7 linked regions of the Homo sapiens genome follow. The protein of the gene in region 4 interacts with the protein of the main gene of each other region in a pairwise test. Each region holds a gene or a part of one and is shown on either strand. Other genes may lie near its edges. The genes, in order: KIF1A, DLX2, BEND5, TSPOAP1, NDE1, DLGAP2 and ARNT2.

Region 1 (3,500 bases), on a different chromosome or scaffold from region 4:
CGCTGGGGCCCTCGGTGGGGGCAGCGACTGACTCGGGCACTCACCATCTACCACCCAGAGCTGGGACGCAGCAGTGCCAACCACCTCCCCAGCCAGAAAGTGGGTCGAGGCATCGAAGGGCACCTGGCAGAACCCCAACCCAGCAGGCCGGAGACCAGACCACCAAGCCAGCTCTGGGCCTCAGTTTCCCCACCATAAAATGGAAAAACTTAAAGAAATAAGCTAAAGTTGCTGAAGGCTGTCACACTGTACCCAGTGACCACGAGTTCCCCACCTGGGCCTTGGCTCTGACCCCACCCACTCCCCTGTGCTCTGTGCTGGTTCCCAGCCTAGGCATGTGGGTCACAGGGCCCTGCCTGACCTCCCAGCATGGAGCTGTCCCTCCATGTGGGTCAGGGGCAGCCTGCCTGAACCTCCAGTATGGGCATCAGGCAACCTGTCTGTCTCCCCAAGTATGAGGGTCCCTGTGCCCCCAGTATGGGGAGCAGGGTGGCCTGCCTGTCCCCTGTCAGCACAGAGCTGGTGGCGGTGCTTTCCAGGGAGGCCCCACACACCTGACTCGGATCTCCTGGATGTCAGGGACCAGCAGGCGCTGGGGCTCCTTGTCTGTCTCTGTTGCCCGGGCAGGGGAAGGGAGCTTCTTGGAGTCGGCCTCTGGCAGCAGCTCGGGCTCTGGGCTGGCTGGCCGGGAGCAGGGCTGCGGGGTCCTGGGAAGCAGAGGGAAGTGCTGCCCACTGCAGGCCTCCCTGGGCCTGGGGCCGTCTTCCCCCAGGCTTCACCCTCCTCAGAGCACCTCAGAAGGTGCAGTAGGGCACCTTCGCAGGGTCTCTCCAGCTGTGCCCACAGTGGGAGCTCCCGGGGCCCGTCCACCAGGATAGCCAAGCTTGTGCCCGATTCCAGGAAGTGCTGGGCTTGGTGGGCAGGGTCCCCCAGGAACCTCGGGGCCCAGCCAGGGAGCCTGTGCCCCACTCCACGCCCTTCTCCCAGTGGCTCTCCTGCCCCCACCTCCACCCTGTGAAAGCAAGTCCAGCATCTCTTCATCTCCACAACTAGACTGAAGGTGACACGAGGTTCCAAGGAGCCACTGGAGCAGAGGGTGCCGATGGCCTCCCGCATGGGCCCCCCACATGGGCCAGGCCCCACGCGACTCGACCTGGTGGTCAAGGAGGCCTGCAGAAGACAAGGCCAGCTGATGCCACCGTCTTTCTTATTTAAATGAAAATCTGGAACCCTTAAGGCGCTTAAAACAAGAGTGAAAAGCATCTGCCTGCTTATGAATTGTACATAAGGGGTTCACACGAGGTCTCTTCCAAATGCGGACCTGCAGGGGCCAGGTGTCCCCTCCACAATACTGACTCTAACGGCTCTCATGCCCTCTTTCGTAACCTTTTCTTTTTCCATTATTTTATAAGCACTGTCTCAGGAAAGGGGAGCTTTAGCTTATTTTCCACCCATTTCTGGTCTTCTTCAGGGAAGAGAACACACACACACTAGGATGGAGCTGGCGGGGCACAGGCACCCTCTGAGAGGGCTGCGGACTCCACTCCTCCAGGCCCTTCCCTCAGCCTGTGGCCACCCCAAGGCACTCGGCCATTGGGGCCCCCTGTTCTGTGCTCTCTGTGCCCGAGTCACGGCCATGGTCATGGGTCAGCCGTGGTGCCAGAAGCCACTCCGGGAGCCTGGAGCTCACTCACCTCAGGTCAGTGGCACCGTACCGCCCTTCAACCAGAGAGGGGCAAGTGGAGGAGGGGGTGAGAGTGGCCACCCCTAGAGGGGACATCGACGGGTCCCGGAGCAGGGTGACAGACATCTCGGAGAGCTGCGGAGGAGAGGCCTTTTTCAGGGGACACAGGGAAGGGGGGTCTCCGGCCTCTGTGGGAGCTGCTCCCTGTGCCTGCGCTTACCCCACACCTGCTGCTTAGGGCACCCCACCCCTCCTACCAGCAGCCTTGGCTCAAAGTTGGCCAGCTCAAGACCCCCGGCCCCCTCCAGCCCCTGTGGCCCCTGGCCGGCCCCTCCCATCACTTCAGGCTCTGGCCTGACCCAGGCAGCCACCCTGCCAATGCCTCGAGGAGTGGGCTGGGTAAGCTCTGCCCTGCCGCCTCCTGCCCATGCCAGCGTGAGGTGGCGCTGGGTGATGCCATGGGGACAAGGAAGGCCATGGGCCAGGGCTGGAGCTCCACGCATAATGCAGCACAGCAGCAGTTTCCCAGGCTACAGGGGTGGGGTCGGTCCCAGGAGGAGGAGGGACAGCCAAGTGGGAGCTTGACTGACTGGGCCAGAGGCCACAGGGTGATGGCCAGACAGGGTGGGGGCCAGGAAGACAGCAGAAGCCTGCAAGTGCATGGGTGCATCCAAGGCCACAGGACCCACCCGGCCCCTCACTCACATCCCCACCTCCCATGGACCCCAGGCCGACCCAGGGAAACCAGCCACTTAGGTATGAGGTGTCCCTCTGCACTGAGACGTGTTCCTAGGAAACTCTTAACTGCCTTTTCCCACTTGGAATGGGAGTTTTCCTCAGGGACCACTGCCTATGGGAGCCCGAGCCCTGCGGGGCAGCCTGGTGCAGCCCCTCTGCACCCACCTTGCTCTCGCTGGCACTGACGCAGACGTGGCTGTGTGTGTACTCTCTGTTGAATGTGTGCGTGAGCAGGCGCAAGCACTGTGGACAGAGCACACGCGTGGTCAGGGGCCAGGCCTCCCGGGACCCTGCTCAGACAGCCTTGCAGGCTCTTCTACCCACCCCTCCCCAGACACAGGTGGGTTCCGACGCCAGAGCACAGTGGGTCAAGGTGGGCAGCACCTCCACCCCGCCCAGGTCATCGGGTGAGCCCAGGAAGTCTCCCAGGGTCAGGCACCGGCTGAGGGCCTGGTGTGAGGGCCAGAGGCTGTGCTGCCTCCAGTGCAGGAGGCGCAGGAAGCCTTCCCAGAGGCCCGTTCAGCCGCCAAAAGAGCCACTTGTGGGTGGAAGTGGTGAGCTCCCCATCAGCACAGGTATTCAAGAGAGTGATTCATCGCTTGGGAAGGGAGGCTGCAAAAGGCACCCAACTTTCAGTGCAGGTGGGGTGCAGTCAGTGGGCAAGGGGACCCTAGGGACCCCTCAAGCTCCTAGCTCCTGGTGGTGCTAACCAGAGCAGCCATGGGCAAGGCCGGGTTGCTGGAGTTGCCCAGAAATGACTCAGGGCCCTTGAGGGCCTGGGGCTACGGCTGTACTGCCCACCAGCTGGACCCACCTTGACGGCCAGCTCCCGCTGCCTCTCGTTGGGAGCCTCCAGGGGTGATGGGCGGCCCTCAGCCGAGAGCGGGGAGGAGGCGCTGGAGGAGCCATGGGACTCAGAGTCCTCGCTGAAGGCCGGGGACAGTGCCTCCGGGACAGGCCGCTGGGCGGTCTCCAGCTTCTCCCGCAGGAGCAGGTAGTGCCTAGTCTTCTCCACCTTCAGACAGGACACAAGGCCTTACCTGCTGCACCTCAGGGGTGACCTCCGGAGTTGTGCTCA
Region 2 (4,045 bases), on a different chromosome or scaffold from region 4:
AACTGCAGCGTCCGAGCTGAGCCCAGGGGAGCGGGCGAGGAGAAAGAAGCCTCAGAGCGCCCGGGAAGCCTCGCGCGCCTGGGAGGCTTCCATCTCCCGGGACCCAGCTCTCAGCCCGGGGCGAGGAAGGCGCCAGACAGGCTCACCCGGAGGGGAGGGAAGGCAAGTCCGAGGCGGGGCTCGAAACAGCCGAGACCCGGGGCTCAGGTCAGAAATGCGGCCTTTTAGGGAGGCCTTTGCCAAGCTGCTGTCCGGTTCCCCCGAGAGAGGGGCCCGTTTGGTGGCCCCGGGAGTGAGCAGGGCCTGAGACGGGCCACTGCAGGTCGCAGCCTGCAGGAGAGGTGGGTGGCGGCAGCGGGCCGGGAGGAGGGAACCCCGGCTCGGGGTAAGCAATGAGGATAAGTGGTCTCTGCTCTCAGTCTCTGGCGAGTTCTCCCTGGGGTTAGAAAATCGTCCCCGCGCTCACCGGGGCGCCCCCGCCGCCGTGATGGTGGTGGTGGTGATGCGGCTGCGGGGTCTGAGTGGGGTGCAGCAGCGGCGCCGTGGCCTGCAGGTGTGAGGCGGATCCCGAGGTCTGGTGGTACCAGGGGTAGTTGCCCAGAAAAGCCGAGGCCGCGCTGCTCGGGCTGGAGCCCGAGCTGCCGGCGCCGCTGCCGCCACTGCCCGGACCACCGCCGCCCGCCATCCGCTGCGGCACACCAAAGTCCCAGGAGGCCGGCGCTGAGACTGGCGGCGAAGCACAAGGTGGAGAAGCGCTGGCCCCAGGGTGCTGCTCCGAGGGGATCTCACCACTTTTCCACATCTTCTTGAACTTGGACCGGCGGTTCTGGAACCAGATTTTGACCTTTGAGGAAAAAGACCTGAGCATTAGTGGAGGAACCTAGTCTTGGGGCAGTAGGGGTTCGAAGAGGAGAAAAAAGAAGGCAGAGAAAAACCGCTGGCTAGCGGTGGGCAGCGAGCGCCCTGGGGAGATAAGAGGATCACGGGCGGCGGCCTTCGAGGCTCTGCCGGTTCCTGCTCCCTGGGGAGGTAATTGCCAAAAGGCCAGGACTGCTGGTGTACGTGCACTGTGATGATGGTGACAGCGGGAGGGTGAGGAGGGCCAGTTATTTCACCCGCTTAATCAGTAGCGAGAGGTACGGGATTTCTGTCCACCCGGTCCCTTTCCTTCCCTCCCACGGCGGCCCCTTGGGGGTTTCCAGCTTTGGGCCTAGAAGCTTACTTAGGGCCGCTCGAGGCGCAGGCCTGGAAATCCTTAAAAGTACTTAAAATGAACTTTAAAAAGCATTGTCCTAAACCCGCCTGCTTCCCAGCCATCTCAGGCCCGCGCTCTCCTCGCCCCTGCAGGGCGCGAGCCCCACCTGAGTCTGGGTGAGGCCCAGAGAGGCCGCCAGCTCGGCTCGCTCCGGCAAGGCCAAGTATTGAGTCTTTTGGAAACGCCGCTGAAGAGCCGCCAGCTGGAAACTGGAGTAGATGGTGCGGGGTTTCCGGACTTTCTTTGGCTTCCCGTTCACTATCCGAATTTCAGGCTCAAGGTCCTCCTTCTCTGCAACGATAAAGAATCGTAAGAACAGCGCAACCCAGGGGTCCTGGAGTTCCCGCCCTCCTAGAGGGCCCGGCGGGGGGGACTTGGCTTGAGCAAAGAGGTGGGTGCACTGAACTGTGGCGCCACGGGCAGGCGCAACTTCGCAGCGTGCGATCGGAGCCGCCACCGACCCCGGGAGCTGTACCCTCCAGGGAAGGGGGAGACAAGTGCACACCCAAGAGAAAGAAGCTGGTGGCAAGGAGATGCCCTTATGAGGCAGGCAGAGCACGCCCACTTGGCTCTTGAGGCCACCAGGTCCTACCAAAGGAGAGAGGGACGTAACCGGCGACCTGCGGCAGATTGGAGGCTGGGGAGGGTAAAGGGCACAAGCGGGCGGTGAGCAGGCAGCGTGAAAATCCAGAGCTTTCGAAGGCCCCCCGCCCCAAACACGTTTACCCATCCATCCCATTAACTAGACCGACTCGGCACTCTTGACTTCAGCGTTATGCATACCAGGCTCGTTGTTGGCTGGGGACGAACTGGTTCCATAGGGAGCGTAGGAGGTGTAGGCGGCGGTGTAGCCCAGGTCATAGCTGCTCTTGGCGGAGTAAGGGACGTTGTTGAGGCCGCTGGCTTGGTACTGGTAGGAACCCATGTGCGCGTAGGGCGAGCCCCCGCCGCCGCCGCCGCCCGCCGGGTGCTGCTGGTTGGTGTAGTAGCTGCTGTCGGTGGCGGTGGACACCGGAAGGGTGGGCGACTCCTGGGGCTTGTGGAGGCTGCTGCTGCTGCTGCTGTTGCCACCCGGGCCGGCGCCGCCGCCGCTCGGGGGCTGCTGGTGCTGGTGGTACGTGCTGGAGGCGGCGATCTGGGTCGAGTGCATATCAGCCACTAGACTGTCAAAGACTCCAGTCATCCTGGCCCGAGACGGGAAAGAGCAGAGGTGGCGGGCGTGCGGGGGAAGCCAGGCGCCTCCTCTGTCTCTCCCGGTCCCCTCCAGCAGCCAATGTAATTACGGGGGTGGTGGTGGGGAAACAAGAAAGGAGGCAACCGTCTAGGCGCCTCCTCCTCCGGGGGAGGCGATCACCGTGCGCTGCTCGGGACAGCTGCCTCTGGTCGCATCCTCTTTCGGCCTCTGGGCCCGCTCGGCTCCTTGCCCAGCGCGAGCGCGGGCTCTGGCGGGGGGCGGGCAGTGGAGGGGGCAGGGGTGGCTGGGCCGGGTCGGGGCTCTGGGAGGCGGGAGCAGGTGAGCGGCCCCGAGCGGCTTTACGATTGTCTGCCAGGCGGGCTCCTGAAGTGTGGGCATTTAACACTCGTCACGTGAGCGCTGGCGACGTCACCTAGCAACAGCCAATCAGAAGCAAACGGCCGCGGAGCTCCGGGAACGCCCGGCCAAGGGGCGGGCGTCACATGGTGGGCGCTGTGGCTGCGGCTGCGGCTGCAGCGGCCCCAGGTGCAAACAGACTGCCGCCGAATGTGAGCAGCGAGGCGAGGGGTCGAGGTAGCGAGGAGTCAGGGTGGCCCGCAGCAGGAAGACAGAAGGCGTGGAGACAGACTGGCGTTTTGCCTCAGAGGAAGAAGTGGGGTCCCCTCTCCCATTCTGTGAGCAAGTGCCAGTTCCAGTGATTCGTACTTTCATGTCCGAGGTCAGTTTTCAAACACATTAAAGTACATCGGTGCCCAGAGTCCAGCCAGCTCTATCTTCACTTTTCCTCGAAGTGTCTGGCATTTATTCTTGTTAGCCACTCGGCACTTGACATAATCAATTGATTTAATTATCCACAAACCACGTGTAATGCTCGCTTCTTAACCAATCCGCAGGGATATTAGGACAATTAATCATATAATATTGAAACGGGTTTTCCTTGTTGCTTCAAAGAGAAGCTACATAAACTTAAAGGTATTATTGCTAATAGTATATTTGAAACCACTTTCCCTGGTACTTTCCCGACACGCGAGACTCTGAGTAATTATATACGTTTGATAAGTAAATGACACCCTGAAAGCCATCCCGAGGACTTCCTCCTTCGGGTGGAAAGGTTCACCAGTTGTCCTTGAAAATTCGATGCTCTTGCGAAAAAGGAAATAGGATAATAGGTGAGATTATAGATTTATCAAGTAGATACTAGATTTATCACTTCTCTGTAAATTTACAACAAATATAAAAAGTTTTATCTGGTTTGTTGAATTTAATCCTGTTTTACAGTTTTGCATTTTAGGACCCTGTTCTACCCTATCATTGCAATTTTTTTCTTTTCCCTCTGTTTTTTAAAAAATCGGAAATGGTGACTTCCTCTGTCTCTATAACCTTGTAGTTGGAAACCTTGGCCCGACGGTGATGGACTGCACGACTTGCTGGACTCCCAAGTCCGAAGTTCCTGCGGCAGCGCTTGCTTTGTGGCGCCACCTGGTGGGCAGTGTGCGAGGTTGCGGGGGGCGGGGTAGACGGTCTAATCACGCCCAGGCGCCAGCCTCTGAAACCCCCCAAAAGAACAAAATAGTAATTAAAAGCCACAAAATTGT
Region 3 (3,500 bases), on a different chromosome or scaffold from region 4:
TCTGGTTTCTGAAGATTGCTCTGGTTACATAATGGAGAGAGGAGTCTGGAAGCTGCCAGAGTAATGGAGGGGAGAAATGAGTGTGGGCTATGAGAAGGGCAGTACTGTGGAGAGATGCAGATGGTTCTCTCCATATTTGGAAAAAGTAGAGAAACTTTAAAATGGCTTAGAAAATGGGGGAGTGGATCAGCAGTGGTTTAAGAGAGATTTGGGGCCAAACAGATGGGTAGTGAGGGATGTGGAGGAGTCAAGGATGAGACCTGGGTGCCTGGCTGGTGGTACTATTCACCAAGACAGGGAACATAGAAGAGGCAAAGGCTTCACAGAGAAGGAGAGGAAGAAAGAGAGAGAAGTGAGCAGTGCAGTTTTGCCAATGTCATGTGGGCATCTGTGAAGAGATAACCAGTGGGCACTTTGATCATAGATCAAGAAATCAGAAGTGTGAATTGAGTCAAATACAGATTTGGGAATCATCATTCATTGAATCAACAAATATTTATTGAGCACTTACTATAGGCTAGCCCTGAACAAGATGCTCATAAAGTTTAATTCTAATGGAAGTGGGAGAAGAAAGAAAATTAACAAGTAAAAAAAGTAAATAGGAAATGCTATGCAGAGACTTGGAGTAGGGTGATGTGACAGACAGCAATGGAGAGGCTACTTTAGACTGAGTGGCTGGGGAGGCCTCTCTCAGTGACAGGGAGGGAGGGCACGCAGATCAGGAGCAAGGGAGTAGCAACAGAAAGGACCTGGAAGAAGGCCTCCAGGGCTACAGCACAATAGCAAATGGGAAGTGTGGTATAAGATGAGGTCAGAGGCGTCCCAAAGGCAGATCATCTGTAACAGGTGAGGAGTACAGATTTCAACCCAAAGTCAAGGGCACACTGAAGGCAATGGGAACAATAGGAAGTGAGGAGAGAAGCTGAGGAGTGCTTGGTAGGATCAGCGAGAAGATGGCTGGACACAGAGGAGAGGGCCCATCAAGGAGACTGAGAAACCAGAGAGATGGGAAGAAATCCCCAGCGTGCAGAACAGGTTTCTCAGTGAAGGAGGAATGATCGTGTCAAACAGTGCCAGTGAGACTGTGAGAAACACACAAGGATTTAGAGACGAGGAAGTCACTGGGGACCTTGGTGAAAACACATTAAGCAGAAGGCTGGGAGGGGAAGGCAAATGGCAAAGGCATTACCAGGGAACACACACAGTGGGTGTAGCTCGTCTTTCCAGGAGCCTGCATGTGAAAGAAGGGAGATATGATAGCAGCTGGGTGACAGAGTGCCCTTTAAGGAGGGTTTCTTTGCTTTTGTAAGAAATGAGTGATCAAATATATTTACATGATGCTGGGAAGGAACCAGTAGTAGAGCAGGAGCATAACTGAAGGAACAAGGTACTTAGGAAGGCAGGTGGACTGAAATCCAGAGCCCAGATGGAGAGAATCACCAGCCCCAAATAAGGAACTCCTTTGGGACAGGAGGCAGGAAAATGGAGGACATAGTTAAGTCTGTAGGTGTGATGCCTCAAAACTGTGGAAATTCCTTTATTTTCCTCTGTGAAAGAAGAGACAAGGCCTATCTCTTTGATTGATGCGAACTATCATATTTGGAAAAAGTAAAAAAATTTAAAAACGGCTTGGAAAATGAGGTAGTAGATCAGGGAGGGAAACTCACACAACTTGGCAGATGATGCTGAGTTCCAGCTGGGGTTGGAGCTAAGGAGTGTGTAATGGCCCAAGCCACATGCATGGCTGAGGTGTATTCTTCTACATTGCTGCACTGCTACAATCCTAGGCAGCCCTGACTATCTTACGAGGTAAGATGATTTCAGCTTAGTTTTCAGCTAAGAAATCTGAAACATGGAGAGAAAGTGATTTACAAGAAATCACACAAAATTTGGTCAGGCGATCAGCTTGTGGGTCTCTGTGTTTCTTCTGTTCAACCTTCGTTTACTGAGTGCCTACTATGTGCCAGACACTATGTTTGGAAATGAGGCCACAGAGATGAATCAGATACAGTCCCCAGATCCCTGAAGGAGACACACAGCAGATGATTTTATACCATGTGATAATGGCAGGAATAGACAGTTATCTGAAGGCACCCAGGACCTCCTGAGTCACGTTCCAACAAACATAGCAGAATTAGAGGTCGGTCACCTACCAGGCAGGGCAGGGCAGGGCTGCATCCCCAGGATGGCCTTTTTCTCAGGGTGACCTCCCAAATCAGGCTTTACCATTTCAGACAGCAGCAAGACGAAAGGTTACCTCTGATTATCCAAAAATAAGCGGCTGCCTAAATCAATTAATCCGGAGTCAGCCAGGCAAGGGAGGCAGCTATGTTACAGCAGAACAAGCCCCAGACCAGAGTCGGCGGGTGTGTGTTTGAATCTAGGCTCTGAAACCTTATAGCTTTGACCTCAGGCTGGTTGCTTACCCTATGTCCTGCCACCTTGAACTCCAAAATACACCCTACACTTGGGCATATTTCTCCACCTCCACTGCTGTGCCCTTAGTCTATGGCAGCAGCATCTCTCACCAAGAGCACTGTATCAGCTTTGTAACTCATCTCCCATGTGGTCACTCCATGACTGGAAGACCTCCATTGCCCTTTGACTCCAGCAAATCCAAGCTGCTTACTGTGGCCTTCCCAGCCCTACAAGACAGGCTCTCGCCCACCTCCCTGACCTCACTCTTCCTTCTACATCCCAGCCATCTGGGGCTTCTTCACACCCGGAGCATGCCAGCCTTCATACCTGCTGCTTATTCTGCCTGATTTGCCACCCCTCAGACCATTATAAAGATGCTTCTTCCACATCCAGATTGCAGCTCAAATGTCACCTCCTCAAACAGACCTTCTCCAACTACCCCAGTGAATGCAGCCCTCTCTGTCCTACCACATCATATGAGCAAGCTCACAGTACCTGAAGTTATCGAGCTTGTTCCTGGACATATTTGTTGTCTGCCCCCAGAGTCTGCTGAAAACATATGTGTTGACTGACTGAGTCTTACTTTCTTTATGAAGACATGGCAGACCTGGACACTAGTCAGTGGTTAGGAGCACAGATTCTGAAGACAGCCTGCTGGCTCGGGTTCCTGGCTCTCCTCCCACTAGCTGTATAACCTGGTCAAGTTACTTAACATTTCTGTGTCTCAGTTTCCTTGTCCGTAAAATAGGAATTATAATAGTAGCCAACAGTAGGGTTGCTATGAGGATAATGAGTTAACATACATAAAAGTGTTTTTTAAAAGAGAACCATTTAACAAAAACCCCTAAATCCTGAAACACAGTTAAGTGCCTAAAATAATTAGCAACTACTTTATTCTCTTTGCTCCCTCTACACCATGGTCTGTCTCTATAGTTTGTGTTTTCTGTAGAGTAACTAGTTGTTTTTGTGTTTATCTTCCCTGTGAGAATATGAACTCCTTGCAGATGAAGGCTGTGTCTTACCCCTCTTTGTGTCTTCAATACCCATTAGAGGGCCTGGCAAAGAATGGATGGATGGAGGGA
Region 4 (3,500 bases):
GCACAAGGCCACACTGCCTGCTACTGACTCCTAGTGCCCAACCCCTAGGTCTGACCATTCAGGTCCTTTTGGAAGGAGAGGAGCAGTGGCCCACGATGCCTGGGCCAGACTCTGGGACAGTCACTCCCCTGGGCTTTATTTTTCCCCAACAGAACGTGGTTCTAGCCAGGCACAGCTCTAACCTGCTGTGTGACTTTGGATGAGTTGCTGGCCTTCTCTGATCCTGAACTCCCTGCTCTATCCAAAAGCCCAGGCCTGGGGATTCCAGGCCAATGCCACTGGGGTCCACCTTACCTTTGGGGCCAGACCCCCGGCAAGGCTGGGGAATGGAGCAGCAGCAGGGGGGTGGTGGGCAGTCTCCAAGGCTCCCACAGTCCAGGGCAGATGTGAGCAGATCCAAGGGGCCCGGGTGCAGGCGGAAAGCCTGGAGTTCCTGTGCCAGGAGGCTGAACTGCTCGGTTTGGCTGCGGCACTGTTCTTCGAGCTCTCGAACCCGGGCCTGGGCCAAGACCCACCATGAGCCGCCAGGCCCCTCAAAGCTACCCAGTGCCAGCCCGTGCCATCTGTACACAGCCCTACACTGGGTTTCAGGTCATATCCATCCACCCAGCCCCAGGCCTGGGCACCAGCCTTGCCTTGGCCACCCCACTGTCCTTAATGCATCAGAGCGGAGGGTGAAGTCCTGGGCTGTGTCCTGGGACATCTTCACCCCAGCCCCCTCCAGAGCCAAGGCCGGGGCCTGCCACACACTCACCAACCCTCAGGCCCTAGGCGATGGCACCTCTGCCTCTGGCTGCTTTCTAGGCCAACAGGGATCATTCCCACCCCATCATCACCACCATCACCGCAGGAGTTTTCTCAGCTCCACTGCTCATCACCCTCCCACAATCAGCAACTCAAACCCGTTCCCTGAGAGAGGCGGGCAGGAAATTCCACAGGGGAGCCAGGGATGTCTTCGTGATGGGAATGGGCCAATGCCCGGGAAGTTTTCTCAGGTCTGAGGAGAGTCCCAATAGCAGGGGCTCTCTCCGGCCACTATGGCGAGGCTCCTAAGTTAGACTGGTGATGAACTTCCTCATGATCAGGGTGGCTAGAGAGGGGAGGCCCAGTGTCTGACAGACACGGCGGCAGGCCTGGGACAAGGGGACAGCCGCACGTGTCCTGTGGGAACTCCACCCCCTATGGATTCTCATGCCTGCTCCCAGTGACACCCCCTCTGCTGGATGAGAGAGGGGGACTGCCTGGGCCCTGAGGGAGGAGATGCAACTCAGCCAGCCTGGAGAGGTGTGGGGAAGTGGAGAACGAGGCGCTACCTGCATGGAATCCAAGGTAGACTGTTGCAGGAAAGGAAGCAGAGAACAGGTTAGAACCCTGAGCGCTGTGGGTTGCTAACCCAGAGAGGGAGGCGGAGAAGGGGGCCTAAGTGGATATCATCCAGTCAGCTCCCTGGACTGACTAGCAGTTCCTAAATGGAAGGATATCTCAGGGTGAAGGCAGCCTCTGGGGGTGGCAGCAATGGGAGACTGCTGCCACCAGACTTGGGAGCCCCCTGCCCAGCCGTGCCCACCCTGAGAAATAGGCCAGTGGTGGAGGGGACTCCCCCAGGTCCTGGAGCATTTAAGGGCCCCTCCTGCAACCCCTCTCCCCACCGCCATAGTCCATTTCAGCTCTATCTGGAGGACCCCCGCCTTCCTCCCAAGATGGTGGAACTGGGGGCCACTTCCAGGCGCCCTACCTCCAGCAGCTGCACGGCTCCTTCATGTTCCCTCTGGGCTTCAGCCTGGGCCTACAGGTGGGGGGAACCAAAATACTGGAGGGAAGGAGAAGGAATGGGGTGGAGTAGAGAGGGCTGCGAGGGAGGAAGGGTAGAAAGGACAGAGGCAGGGGAGGAAGAAGCCGGGAGAAAGAAAAGGGTAGGGAGAGAGGGAAGAGGGATAGGGAAGGGGGAGGCCGAAGGGTTTCTCCCTCCTGAACACCCACCCTGAACCATACCTTAGACCAGAAGGCAAAGGGGACCAGGAGAAGCGTGGCTGAGTCAGCTCCCCTCTTTCCTGAGCAACCATCCTCCCAGTTTCCCCCCTACCTCTCTGGATGCTCCTTCTCAGCCTCTTTTGCCTGCTCCCTGTCCCCCATTTTGAATGTTAGGGTTACCCTGGACCCAGTGCTGGGCCCAGTTTATATTGTCTACTCTCTTCCTAGGGCTCCCATCTACTCATACAACTAAACACACTGGTGGCTCCAAATATCTCCAAGACCAACTTACCCATAACCCCAGGCTCATGTATCCAAGTGCCTGTGGACAGCTCCCCTTGAATGTTTAACGCGCAGCTCAGACATGGCCCAAATGGAACTCAGCACTCGGGATGACCTACCTCTCAGATCTGCTGCCCCTTCATCCTTCACCTCACGGAGTATGAAGAGCCCCACCCTCCACCAAGGTTTATACAGCAAATGGCTGTCAGAGAAGGGATTCAACTGGAATCCCACGGGGATCCTTGTCAATTCTTTTTTTTTTTTTTTGAGATGGAGTCTCGCTCTGTCGCCCAGGCTGGAGTGCAATGGTACGATCTCAGCTCACTGCAAGCTCTGCCTCCCGGGTTCAAACAATTCTCCTGCCTCAGCCTCCTGAGTAGCTGGGACTACAGGGGCCCGCCACCATGTCAGGTTAATTTTTGTATTTTTGGTAGAGACGGGGATTCACCATATTGGCCAGGCTGGCCTCGAACTCCTGACCTCAACTGATCCACCCACCTTGGCCTCCCAAAGTGCTGGGATGACAGGCATGAGCCACCATGCCCGGCCAGAACCTTGTCAGTTCTATCTCTAAAACATAACTCAAACCCAGGCACTTGTCTCCCGTTCCACTGCATGCATCTCTGTCCAGACAGCCACCATCTCCCTCCCAGGCCACCGCCCAGGCCCTGCTCCACGCCTGCTCCCACAGTCCACCCTCCATAATACCAGCCATGTGATCCTGTAAAATTATGACTCAGATCATGTCACTCCCCCACTTAGGATCTTTCAGGAGCTTCTATCTACTCACAGAGCAAAATACCCAAACTCTTCCCATGGCCGTTAAGGCCCGACAGGATCGGGTTCTTGTCTACTCCCACCACGCTGCCCATCCCTTGCTGTATTCTAGCCACATTGGTCTCAGGCTTCTTCAGCTCTTCCCTGCCACAGAGCATGTGCATGTCTACACCTCCTGGCTGGCAAGGTCAATTGTCACCTCCTCAGGGAGGCCTTCCCTGATGACCTCTAAAGTGGCTCCTCACCCCATCCCAGTCACTTTGTCACATCACCCTGTTCTTCTCCACCACTGTGCTCATCAGTGTCTGAAATCAGCTCACTCCTGGATGCTAATTTGCTGACTGCTCAGGGACCTGGTCTTTGTTCCCCACAGTCTCCCCGACGCCTAGCACAGTGCCGGGCACACAGTAAATGCTTGTGGAATGAGTGAGTGGCAAAGCTGGTGTCCAGCAGCCTGCCAGCTTCCCTCA
Region 5 (3,500 bases), on a different chromosome or scaffold from region 4:
TTGATGGCAACCAATATATTTGGCTAAAACTTTGAAACCTCATCAGCATTTGCTCTTTTTCAGTTGGCACTTCCAGAGGTAGAATGTTGAAACTGTAATGAGGCATTTGGCCAGGCACAGTGGTTCACACCTGTAATCCCAGCACTTTGGGAGGCTGAGGCAGGTGGATCACCTGAGCTCAGGAGTTTGAGACCAGCCTGGACAACATAGAGAAACCCCATCTCTACTAAAAATAGAAAACATGAGGGTATGGTGGTGGGTGCCTGCAATCCCAGCTGCTCAGGAGGCTGAGGCACGAGAATTGCTTGAACCTGGGAGGTGGAGGTTGTAGTGAGCCAAAATTACACCATTGCACTCCAGCCTGGGTGACAGAGTGAGACTCTTGTCTCAAAAAAAAAAAAAAAAAAAAGACATTCATTAGTGGATTGTCCAAGTTGTTTTTACCTTTTTTTTTTTTTTTTTTTTTTTTTTTGAGATGGCGTCTTGCTCTGTTGTCCAGGCTGGAGTGCAGTGGTGCTATCTCTGCTCACTGCAACCTCTGCCTCCCAGGTTCAGCGATTCCCCTGCTTCAGCCTCCTGAGTAGCTGGGACTGCAGGTGTGCACCACCATGCCTGGCTAATTTTTATATTTTTAATAGAGATGGGGTTTCACCATGTTGGCCAGGCTGGTCTTGAACTCCTGACCCCAGGCGATCTGCCTGCCTCGGCCTCCCAAAGTGCTGGGATTATAGGGGTGGGTCACTGTTGCTGGCCCAATTAATTATTTATAACGTCGATTTGCTTTCTAATGTGTAACCAGTAGGTGGGGGATAAAAAGTAAAAATTCTTAAGTTTAATAAAGTAGTTGTTCCTAGATGTCCATCAGTAATGAAGTGGTTAAATGAAGTACATAGATGTATTTTGTGAAATGTTAATGGTTAAAATGAACAGTAGATAGAAATGTTGTGGTAGAAAGATTGCCAAGGCTAGGCACAGTGGCTGATGCCTGTAATCTCAGTGCTTTGAGAGACGGACGCAAGAGGATTGCTTGAGCCTAGGAGTTCAAGATGAGCCTGGACAACATAGTGATACCCCATCTCTACAAAAATGAAAATTGTAAAAATTAGGCCTGGTGGCATATGTCTGTAGTTCCAGCTACTTAGGAGGCTGAAGTGGGAGGATGACTTGAGCCCAGGAGTTCAAGGTTACATTGAGCTATGATTGTGCCACCGCACCCCAGCCTGGGTGACTGAGTCAGACCCTGTCTCTAAAACAAAAATCATTGCCAAGACATACCACTGAAGTGGGGAGAGTAAGTCATACACAGGACAACATATTGTATGTTTCCAGTAATGCTTAATAAAAAATTTTCTTGTTTTATGCTCAGTAGATACATACATATGTATAAAGTTTATGTTTGAAAATGGAGAGAACAGCTGGGCGCAGTGGCTCACGCCTGTATTCCCAGCACTTTGGGAGGCCAAGGTGGGTGGATCACCTGAGGTCAGGAGTTAGAGTCCAGCCTGGACAACATGGTGAAACCCTGTGTCTACTAAAAATACAAAAATTAGCCAGGTGTGGTGGTGCGTGCCTGTAATCCCAGCTACTTGGGAGGCTGAGGCAGGAGAATCACTTGAACCCGGGAGGCAGATTTACAGTGAGCCGAGACTGTGCCACTGCACTTAAGCCCGGGCAAGAGAGTGAAACTCCATCTCAAAAAAAAAAAAAAAAAAAAATTCAGAGAACAATGGTTGAAAAGCTCTCCCACATGTTATGGTGATGATGAGTGAGGAGGAGCATTTGGGGATAGTCTGGAAAGCATACTTTATTTATTTTTGAGACAGTCTTGCTCTGTCACACAGGCTGGAGTGCAGTGGCGTGATCTCAGCTCACTGCACTCACTGCTTGTCCCCCAGGCTCAAGCGATTGTCTTGCCTCAGCCTCCCAAGCAGCTGGGACTACAGGCGCTCACCACCACGCATGGCTAATTTTTTGTATTTTTAATAGAGACGGGGTTTTGCCATGTTGGCCTGAAAATTCCTGACCTCAAGCAATCCTCCCATCTCGACCTCTCAGAGTGCTGGGATTATAGGCTTGAGCCAGTGCAACTGGCCTTTTTTTTTTTTTTTCTTTTTTTTTTTTTTTTTTTTTTTTTTTTGAGCCAGAGGTCTCACTCTCGCCCAGGCTGAAGTGGTATGATCATGGCTTACTGCAGCCTCGACTTACTGGATTAATGTGATTCTTACACCTCAGCCTCCCAAAGTGCTGGGATTACAGGCATGAGTCACTGCTCCCGGGCATATTTTCATTTAGTGTTCTAAATACACTGCTATGTTGGAATTGTTTTTTCAATAATAAAAGCATTAGTGTGTCACTGTCATAGCTTTTTAAAAATCTGAAACCATTTTGTTAGTCAAGAGAAACATCCTGTAGAGTTCCAAGTCTGCTAGGCAAGGTCCTGTGGGTTTCCCTTTATTTGGGGTTTCTACCTGGAGTGTTTCACCCCAGTAGGTCTTTTTTCTGACTGGTATCTACTGTTGAACCTCTCTCCCTGCACCCCACCAACCCTAAGCAAGGACTTAAATTCCCTTTTTGTTTTTTGAGACGTAGTCTTGCTCTTGTCACCCAGACTGGAGTGCGCTGGAGCAATCTCAGCTCACTGCCACCCTGGCCTCCCAGGTTCAAATGATTCTCATGCCTCATCCTCCTGAGTAGCTGAGATTACAGGTGCCTACTACCATGCTGGGCTAATTTTTGTATTTTCAATAGAGATGAGGTTTCACCATGTTGGTCAGGCTGGTCTCGAACTCCTGACCTCAGGCGATCCACCTGCCTTGGCCTCCCAAAGTGCTGGCATTATAAACATGAGCCACTGCGCCTGGCTGAGGACTTGAATTCCTGAATCCTTTTTCTGGCACAGATTTGCGGCAGGAACTGGCCGTGCAGCAGAAGCAGGAGAAACCCAGGACCCCCATGCCCAGCTCAGTGGAAGCTGAGAGGACAGACACAGCTGTGCAGGCCACGGGCTCCGTGCCGTCCACGCCCATTGCTCACCGAGGACCCAGCTCAAGTTTAAACACACCTGGGAGCTTCAGACGTGGTAAGGGGAGTGGGAATTGCAGGATTTTCTCGGTTCACAAAGTGTTTCTGGGTAAGAATCTGGGGTGGGTCCTGGGGGTGTGATGATTTGCATCAGGCTCAGAGCCTGATTTGCTCTCAGGCTTTGAGCAGAGAGTAGACTGGGATGTTCTTGGGGATGGGCATTGAGATCAGTGAGGACTGGGTAAGAGGCAGTAGTGGAGTCTGATGAAATGGAAACCCCACCCAGAGCGGGTGGCTGCCACTCTGCAGCTACGAGGATTGGCCCTTCATCTGCAGCTTTTTCCATTCTTCAAAGCCAGAAATCCTCTTTTTTTTTGTTGGGTTTTTTTTTTTGAGACAGGATCTCACTCTGTTGCCCAGGCTGGAGTGTAGTGACGTGATCTTGGCTCACTGCAACCTCTTCATCGTGGGCTCAAGTG
Region 6 (3,500 bases), on a different chromosome or scaffold from region 4:
TCTGAGAGAACCACGATGATGGCTCCATCCATAGACTGCCACGGCCACCAGAACAAGTCACTTCCTTCAGCTAAAACAGGTGTCTGGGCATTTAGATGCAAAGACTCAGAGGAAACGTGAAGGCACGTGAAACTTGAGAAACTGCTGTTGTCTGCAGGACACACGACGTGAATCCACGTCTTCAGCCCTAAACCACAGTAGCTTAGTGAGTGATCCAGACATGAAGACCCGGCCACGGAAATCACATGCAAATACCAGCAAAAGGCATCGCGCAGTGGCCCATGCCCACAATCGCAACATTTTGGGAGGCTGGGGTAGGCTGATGGCTAGAGCCCAGGAGTCAGAGTCTAGTCTGGACAACATGGTGAAACCCCATCTCTACTAAAAATACAAAAAATTAGCTGGGTGTGGTGGTGCACGCCTGTAGTCCCAGCTACTCGGGAGGCTGAGGTGGGAAGATCGCTTGAGCCCAGGAGGTCAAGGCTGCAGTGAGCTGAGATTATGCCACTCACTCCAACCTGAAACACAGGAGTGAGACCGTCTCTAAATAAGTAAGTAAATAAATACCAAGAAGAGGTCATCAGTGCTGAGGGTAGGCTGTGCATGTGAGTTTTGCTTTTGGTTTATTTCAAAGAAACCAAATCAAGACAAAATCATTAAAAAATACTTCTGTATTTTTAACTGTTATATATTACACAACCCCAGCCCCTGAATATAAGATCTACCCTCAGAACATCTCTTACAAGTTAGTGCCAGAGAAAATTTATCTTCACCAAAAAATGAGTATGCAACGTCTACCCTGAAAGCATGATCCTCAGGTTGAACATGGCTTTGTAGTTTTGGGTTTTGTTGACTTGACTCCCTGGAAGCTCAGTGTCAAACGTGATGCCCAGAGAATTACATCCATCCTCATGGTTATCACATGTGTTTCTTCCGATTTTCTATTTCTATTTTCTAATTAGCATTTTTTCCCTTGTCCTTCTGTGGTTAAGTTGGGTCCAAAACTTTTTGGAAAGTGGCAAGAGATATACAAAAAAGTAAAACAAGACCAGAAATAATAAATAAAACAGTTTTGAGAGAAATCAAAGAGTTGCTTGATAACTTCCATTGTGGACTGACTCAAAGTAGGCCTCAATTGTATTTTTTCATGATAAAAATAGTCAAGACTAATCCAGCATTTCCTACGTGCACCATTCTTATCACTTTACAGTCATGAATTCATTTAATCCTCCTTAACCCTATCAAGTTAATATTGCATTGGCCCCACTCTTAGTGATGAGAAAACTGAAATACGGTGAGGTCAAATAAAGAGCCAAATGCAGCTGGGAAAAGTGACTCACTCCTGTAATCCCAGCACTTGAGGAGGCCAGGGCAGGAGGATTCCTTAAGGACAGGAATCTAAGGCCAGCCTGGGCAACACTGCAAGACCTCCGTCTCTACCAAAAAAAAAAAAAGTAAAAATTAGTTGGGTGCGGTGACATACACCAACTACTAGACAGGCTGAGGTGGGAGGATCACTCGTGCCCAGGAGGTCAAGACTGCAGTTAGCTATGATCATGCCAGTGCACTCCCGCCTGGGTGACAGAGGGAGACCCTGTCTCTAAAAAGCCACTTGCAATGCTGTGCAAAAGTCACAGGACAAACATTCGTTACACACAAAAGGATGTTTTTCAATACCGCCTAACTTAAAATACATACTCTATGGACCCTTGAGATCATTCCCATTTTTCTTCTTTTGTACAGAGTATGAAACATTTTAAAGACAACGATCAGTCAGATTCACAGGTTACTTTAAAAATTTTTAACACAAGTTTACAGATGGGCTATTTCCAAATGTTTATTCATTGTTTAAAATGGTTGATTTAAATTTTTCTCTTTTTTTCCTGCCGATACACACGATGTACCATATAAGAAACAGTACCCGAAGATGAATAAGCCTTTCCCTGCAACAAGAGGTTTAATGTGGAAATGTCTGAAGAAACTAAAAGCCCATACATCCCATTTGCTTGTCAGGGACAGAAAACTCAGTTCAAAGAAACAATCTCCTGGTTTATGTAACTGAAAGTCACGGGGTAATGATGGTTCAGGCATAACTTAGTTCAGAGCTTCCAACAGCATCCTCAGGACCAAGCTCTCTGCATAACAGCCGCCCTTCTCCTCCACAGACAGATGAGGAAGGTGTCATTTCCAGACAGGCCATCCCTGCAAGGCTGTGCACTGATGCCACAACTGCAGGCCTTACACCTTTCCCGCTGTTTTTCCTAAAGCTTTCCTCTCCTTGAAAGTTCCCGCTCTTCACTCATCCAATTGCTCTTGAGAGGGAGTTAGGGCTCCGGCCAGTCAGGAGCCACCTCTGACGGGAAGTAGGGTCCGCCAAGCCAACCCCATGAGGTGGCAGGTGTTCCCTAAGGGGAGCTGGCTGCTGCCTGGAAAGGGAAGCGTACACTGAACTGCAAATACACTGGAGTCTGCAGTAACGGGTCTAGAAAGCTCAACTCCTGAAGGCCCGCCAATAAATACAGACAGGACACTTCCAGAACTAAGGCAACTGACATCCCACATGAAGACACTGCCATCAAGTCAGGAGAGGTGCACCTGCAGCGGACACCCATCACCGGGATGTCAGAACACCCAGGCCCCTCTCCTGGAGCTAAAGTTAAGGGACTGCATGTCAAGGCCCATGACCTGAGGACTGGGAGAAGATTTTCATAGGCAGATGAAGTCAGTGCACAGAAGAATGACATGAAAAAAGAAAAACAGAGCTTTACAAATGAGCTCCTACTGCCTTTGCTGAGGAGATTAATTTGTTACTGCTGTTAAGCCTTGGAAGGGAAAGGTGGCTACCAGTAGATGCAAGATTTAAACTAGAGTTTGCACACCCTACGACCCCATGCCTGGTCAATGCCAAAGCCCATCTGCTTAACTTCCCTAGAAATTAAAGTCTTTTGTCATGAGCACACGTGAAATCACTATGCTCAGTTTTTGTACGCACAAGTACCCAGGAAACAACAAAACATATTGAAGAAGTTAGTGGCACTAGAAAGCCTCGTATGATGAAAACTAGTTGGTAAAACTACGGTTGATTAAGAATAATTTTTAACTGCATAGAAAGTGTGCCTACTAACTTCCTGTATGGCAGCCTGTAATTCTTTTATAACCAACATGATGGCAATGCTCTAAATATGACTCCCATCTGGCCAAAATGATGAATCATAGTTATTTTTATTGTATCCAATGAATGACCATGGAGCATCCATCCTGAGGGTCAATAAATAGAATATTTAATCAACTTCATTTTAAAATCTATAATCAAAGTATACATCATTCAACTCCTTGGATAACTGAGGAGTCATGAAGCTTTTCCTCAAATACAGTTATATAATAAAAAAATTATAGCATTTCTTCAATTTCAACATTATGGAAGATGATATCTTCAAAATAAAACAAAACAAAATCCTCTCACCCTTAAAAAGATATTAGAGCACTTTAGTTTCAGAATT
Region 7 (3,500 bases), on a different chromosome or scaffold from region 4:
TGGAATTACAGGCATGCACCACAACACCTGGCTAATTTTTTTTTTTTTTTTTTGTAGAGACAGGGTTTTGCAATGTTGCCCAGGCTAGTCTTGAACTCCTGGGCTCCGGTGATCTGCCACCTTGACCTTTCAAAGTGCTGGGATTACAGATGTGAGTCACCGCGCCCTGCCTGCACAGAATTGTTCATAAGGCTGACAGACAAGCAGTTCTAATGGAAGCTTTTAACTTGCCACGTGGAAATTCAGATGTTTGGGCTCAGATTCACGCTCATCTGAGGAATCAATTCTGTAGAGAAAAGCTCTATGAGCCGCACTGCTGGGTGTCACCCAGTGACCTCACTGTGAGAAAGCAGGCACCAGCTTGGACTTCTTACCAGGACCACGGGTCTCTTATGAGCTTGTCCTGACGTGGAGTGGAACCCTAGCCCTGGGAGACATGCTGAGGAGGTTCCTTACACACACGGAGAGTGGGCAAGGCCCAGGATCCTGAGAAATGCACAGGACACAGCGGTTCCTTAACCCTCTATGGCCTGAGGTTTTGTTAACAAAGTAAGATAGGTGTTTTTAATATTTAAAAGAGACAGAAAACTTTGCAGTGTTATTTATGCAATTGATTGTCTCTATAGCTATTCTCTAGTTTCTTGAAACAAGACTATAAGGTTTTTGACTTGGGGGACCTGAAAATCCTTGCCAGGGCCATAATGGGTTAAAATGGTATTCAGATCACCTCACAGCACAGCAACATCATCCCAATGCCTTGAAAATGATAAAGTCAAATCACAAAGCCAAGGCCTAAGCATCCAGTCTCTTAGGAACACCATAGGCCTCCTCATAGCCAGAGAGAGAGGAGGTGCTTGGAAACCTCCAGACCTTGTTTTGGTAGCTGGGAGCTTGGAGCTCAGCCTCCTGAATTCAGGCTGTTCAGAAAGCATTTGTGCTGGCTTTCCCAGAATCTCACTCCCTCATTCCCCACCTACCGAACCCTGGAGTCCTGTTGGCAAGACTGGAGTAGGCATTCCCACTTGGCGAGGAGGTAGCTGGGCTGGAGAGGGGGCTGTAGGAAGAGGGGTCTGCCGGGTAGGTGTGGCTCGTTCCAATCCCAAAGGGAGATGACTGAGTCTTGCTGGACTGAGATGGGATTTGCTACAATCAGGACAAAGCAAAGAGATGGAAAGCATCACCAGCAGACCCCTGCACCCCAACCGATGCCCCAGGCTGGTCGCAGGGGCAGTGCCTGCTCTGGGTTGACAGTGACTCCCCATGACCCTCTTGTCTGGCTAGGCACAGGCCTGGGATCAGCCCGGTGTGTGAGGGCCCAGGAACTGCAGGATCTTTGGGGCACGTCTGGTTGAAGTTACTCCCCAGGGCTACGAGGATCCGGGCCCTCTGGAGTCTGGTTACCAAGGCCTTGGCATTATGAACACCTAGAACTCCCTCAGCCCAATCAACACCCACCCTCACAGTGACTATGAGGGTCTGGGGATGTCACAAGGGTTGGTGGTTTCATGCCCTCCTGGCGCAGGGGCAGCCAGAGGTCCAGAGTAGTGAGGGGCTCATTCTTGATGAGGTGTCTCAACCTGCCCAACCTTTCCCTGCCAGCTGCCTCAGGGCATGGCTGTAAGGAGAAAAGGCTGCTGAAGTTGCAGGCTGGGCACCTGGCTCTCCGAGAGCCCTGAGGGTGGATGGTGCTCCTGAGTAGCCAGCTGCTGTTAGGGTGGTTGGTTCCAGCTAGGAGCCGACCCATCCTCAGAACCGCAATCCAAAGAAAACACTTCCCAGAGTGCTCTGCCTCTCTGGTCACCCAGGGGAGATGCCCTCACAGATGCCCATACCTGTCCCGGAAAGGGCGGACGACTCCCTGTCCATGCCACCTGACTCTGGTTTAGCTGCCGGGAGATTTGGGACATGTTCTGGCCCGTGGAAGAAGAGGACTGAATATCATTCACTCCAGGCACATGAACCACTGAAGAGCTAGAAAAGAGGAAAATGCATTTATCCCGAGGACACACCTGGTTTGCATGAGTCTACGTGCCCAGCCAACCACACAATCTGCCCTGGGCCATCTTCCTGGCTCTCTCTCCATGCAGCACGTCACTAGAGAAAATGACTCACACATCGTGAGCCTCAAAGCCCCTTGGCCGTCCTCCTCTCCCTTCAGGGCTTCCTCTACACTGCTGAGTAGTCCTGCCATGTCTAGTAGTCTGGTACTTCCTCTCCTCGTTCTCCCCAGGGTCTCCCACGCACTCTTCAGCCCCTATCCTATGCCTGTACATCCTCTGCTCTCAGCAGATGATTTGGTTCCCAGAAAGAGAGAAGCTTCTTAGAATAAAAATCAGTCCCACTGTTCACTCACTCTTTTGTGCTCTGGTTAATTTGTTCCTTTGGGGCACCTATGAGGCTTAAGGATTCAGGAAATAGGTTGCAGGCTGTCAGTTTTAAACGGAAAGAAAAGCTTCTCAATGAAAACCTGCTGGATGGGGCCTAGTCCTGCTACCCAGAGTTTACCCCTCCCACCTTCAGTTCACCTTCGACTTAACTCAGTTTGTCTTTATTAGGCCCCTGCTGTGTGCCGTGCTCTCTGCATGGCCTTTGCAGGCTAAATCTCTGACCCTGCTTAGCTCCTCGGCAGGCACTGTCTGTACCACCAGGCGCTTCTTCCAGGAGATTTTCCAGGCTATGTCGATTACATGAGAAGCTCATCAAAGACTAAAAGGCTGGGGGCAGACTTTTACTTTGTTTCAGGCCCCTCCTCCTGCCTCCCTGGGACTAGCTCAGCATGCAGGGCAGTGCGCTGGGTGCCCATGAATCAGTCAAGTAGGGCAGAATGGGGCTCATCACAGAAGGCTTTGGTAGATTTTCAGCTCCGTGTTAAAAAAAAGGCAAGCCAGAGATCAGCAGAGATTGGGTAAAATTTTACTATTGTATTCTAATAAGTTTCCTATGCTATCTGATCCCTTTTAAAATAGGGAGAAACCAAGAATGTCAGAGACATTCTTGAGCTGATCATTGTAAAACAAGTTCAGTGGCTTATATAAAGGGGACATCATTTCTGTCTTCATACAATCAATTCCTCATTTAACATAAGGGCTCCTTTCCCATTCTCCTTCCTGATGAAAGTATTGCTTCAGAGGACATTTTCTGGTCACTATTGTCTAGTAGGACCCTCTCCACAGCCCCCAGCCCTTGGTGTCCTCCCCAAAACACTGACTGATGAGGGCCGCTACAGCGTAGACGGTCCTAGGAAAGGCGCCTTGGCAGAAAGGGATGGGCTTCTTGGGGCAAAGCGCCAGCCCTTGTGCACAGCCCTCCCTGGGGGCCTCTGGGCTACAGCTGCCTGCCTTAGTGTGGACAGGCAGGGGCCAAAACTGGCGGGACCAGAGAGGGAGGACTGTGGGTGAGGATGCACTTCAGGTGCCAGCAACACCATTCTGCAAGCGGCCCAGGATTCCCTATGGCTGTATTGGGCCCCAGAGTCCTTCATCCCACAGCCTACCCCATCC

The links.
Region 1: the proteins of TSPOAP1 (region 4) and KIF1A interact in a two-hybrid assay, tested with the Homo sapiens proteins (one large-scale study listed by BioGRID).
Region 2: the proteins of TSPOAP1 (region 4) and DLX2 interact in a two-hybrid assay, tested with the Homo sapiens proteins (one large-scale study listed by BioGRID).
Region 3: the proteins of TSPOAP1 (region 4) and BEND5 interact in a two-hybrid assay, tested with the Homo sapiens proteins (one large-scale study listed by BioGRID).
Region 5: the proteins of TSPOAP1 (region 4) and NDE1 interact in a two-hybrid assay, tested with the Homo sapiens proteins (one large-scale study listed by BioGRID).
Region 6: the proteins of TSPOAP1 (region 4) and DLGAP2 interact in a two-hybrid assay, tested with the Homo sapiens proteins (one large-scale study listed by BioGRID).
Region 7: the proteins of TSPOAP1 (region 4) and ARNT2 interact in a two-hybrid assay, tested with the Homo sapiens proteins (one large-scale study listed by BioGRID).

The regions. Positions count from the first base shown.
Region 1 is NC_000002.12:240,719,220-240,722,719, forward strand, and holds part of KIF1A (kinesin-like protein KIF1A), read right to left. Parts: intron 3,438-3,500; coding exon 3,237-3,437; intron 2,666-3,236; coding exon 2,588-2,665; intron 1,820-2,587; coding exon 1,695-1,819; intron 708-1,694; coding exon 555-707; intron 1-554.
Region 2 is NC_000002.12:172,100,101-172,104,145, forward strand, and holds the start of DLX2 (homeobox protein DLX-2), read right to left. Parts: upstream 2,801-4,045; 5' UTR 2,439-2,800; coding exon 2,039-2,438; intron 1,547-2,038; coding exon 1,362-1,546; intron 845-1,361; coding exon 443-844; 3' UTR 1-442. UniProt on the Homo sapiens protein: Acts as a transcriptional activator. Activates transcription of CGA/alpha-GSU, via binding to the downstream activin regulatory element (DARE) in the gene promoter.
Region 3 is NC_000001.11:48,731,892-48,735,391, forward strand, and holds part of BEND5 (BEN domain-containing protein 5), read right to left. Parts: intron 1-3,500. UniProt on the Homo sapiens protein: Acts as a transcriptional repressor.
Region 4 is NC_000017.11:58,318,796-58,322,295, forward strand, and holds part of TSPOAP1 (peripheral-type benzodiazepine receptor-associated protein 1), read right to left. Parts: intron 1,787-3,500; coding exon 1,736-1,786; intron 1,335-1,735; coding exon 1,314-1,334; intron 500-1,313; coding exon 295-499; intron 1-294. UniProt on the Homo sapiens protein: Required for synaptic transmission regulation. It probably controls the recruitement of voltage-gated calcium channels to the presynaptic membrane, and modulates neurotransmitter release.
Region 5 is NC_000016.10:15,688,245-15,691,744, forward strand, and holds part of NDE1 (nuclear distribution protein nudE homolog 1), read left to right. Parts: intron 1-2,899; coding exon 2,900-3,079; intron 3,080-3,500. UniProt on the Homo sapiens protein: Required for centrosome duplication and formation and function of the mitotic spindle. Essential for the development of the cerebral cortex.
Region 6 is NC_000008.11:740,628-744,127, reverse strand, and holds part of DLGAP2 (disks large-associated protein 2), read right to left. Parts: intron 1-3,500.
Region 7 is NC_000015.10:80,578,882-80,582,381, reverse strand, and holds part of ARNT2 (aryl hydrocarbon receptor nuclear translocator 2), read right to left. Parts: intron 2,353-3,500; exon of another isoform or gene 1,972-2,352; coding exon 1,833-1,971; exon of another isoform or gene 1,144-1,832; coding exon 978-1,143; exon of another isoform or gene 1-977. UniProt on the Homo sapiens protein: Transcription factor that plays a role in the development of the hypothalamo-pituitary axis, postnatal brain growth, and visual and renal function. Specifically recognizes the xenobiotic response element (XRE).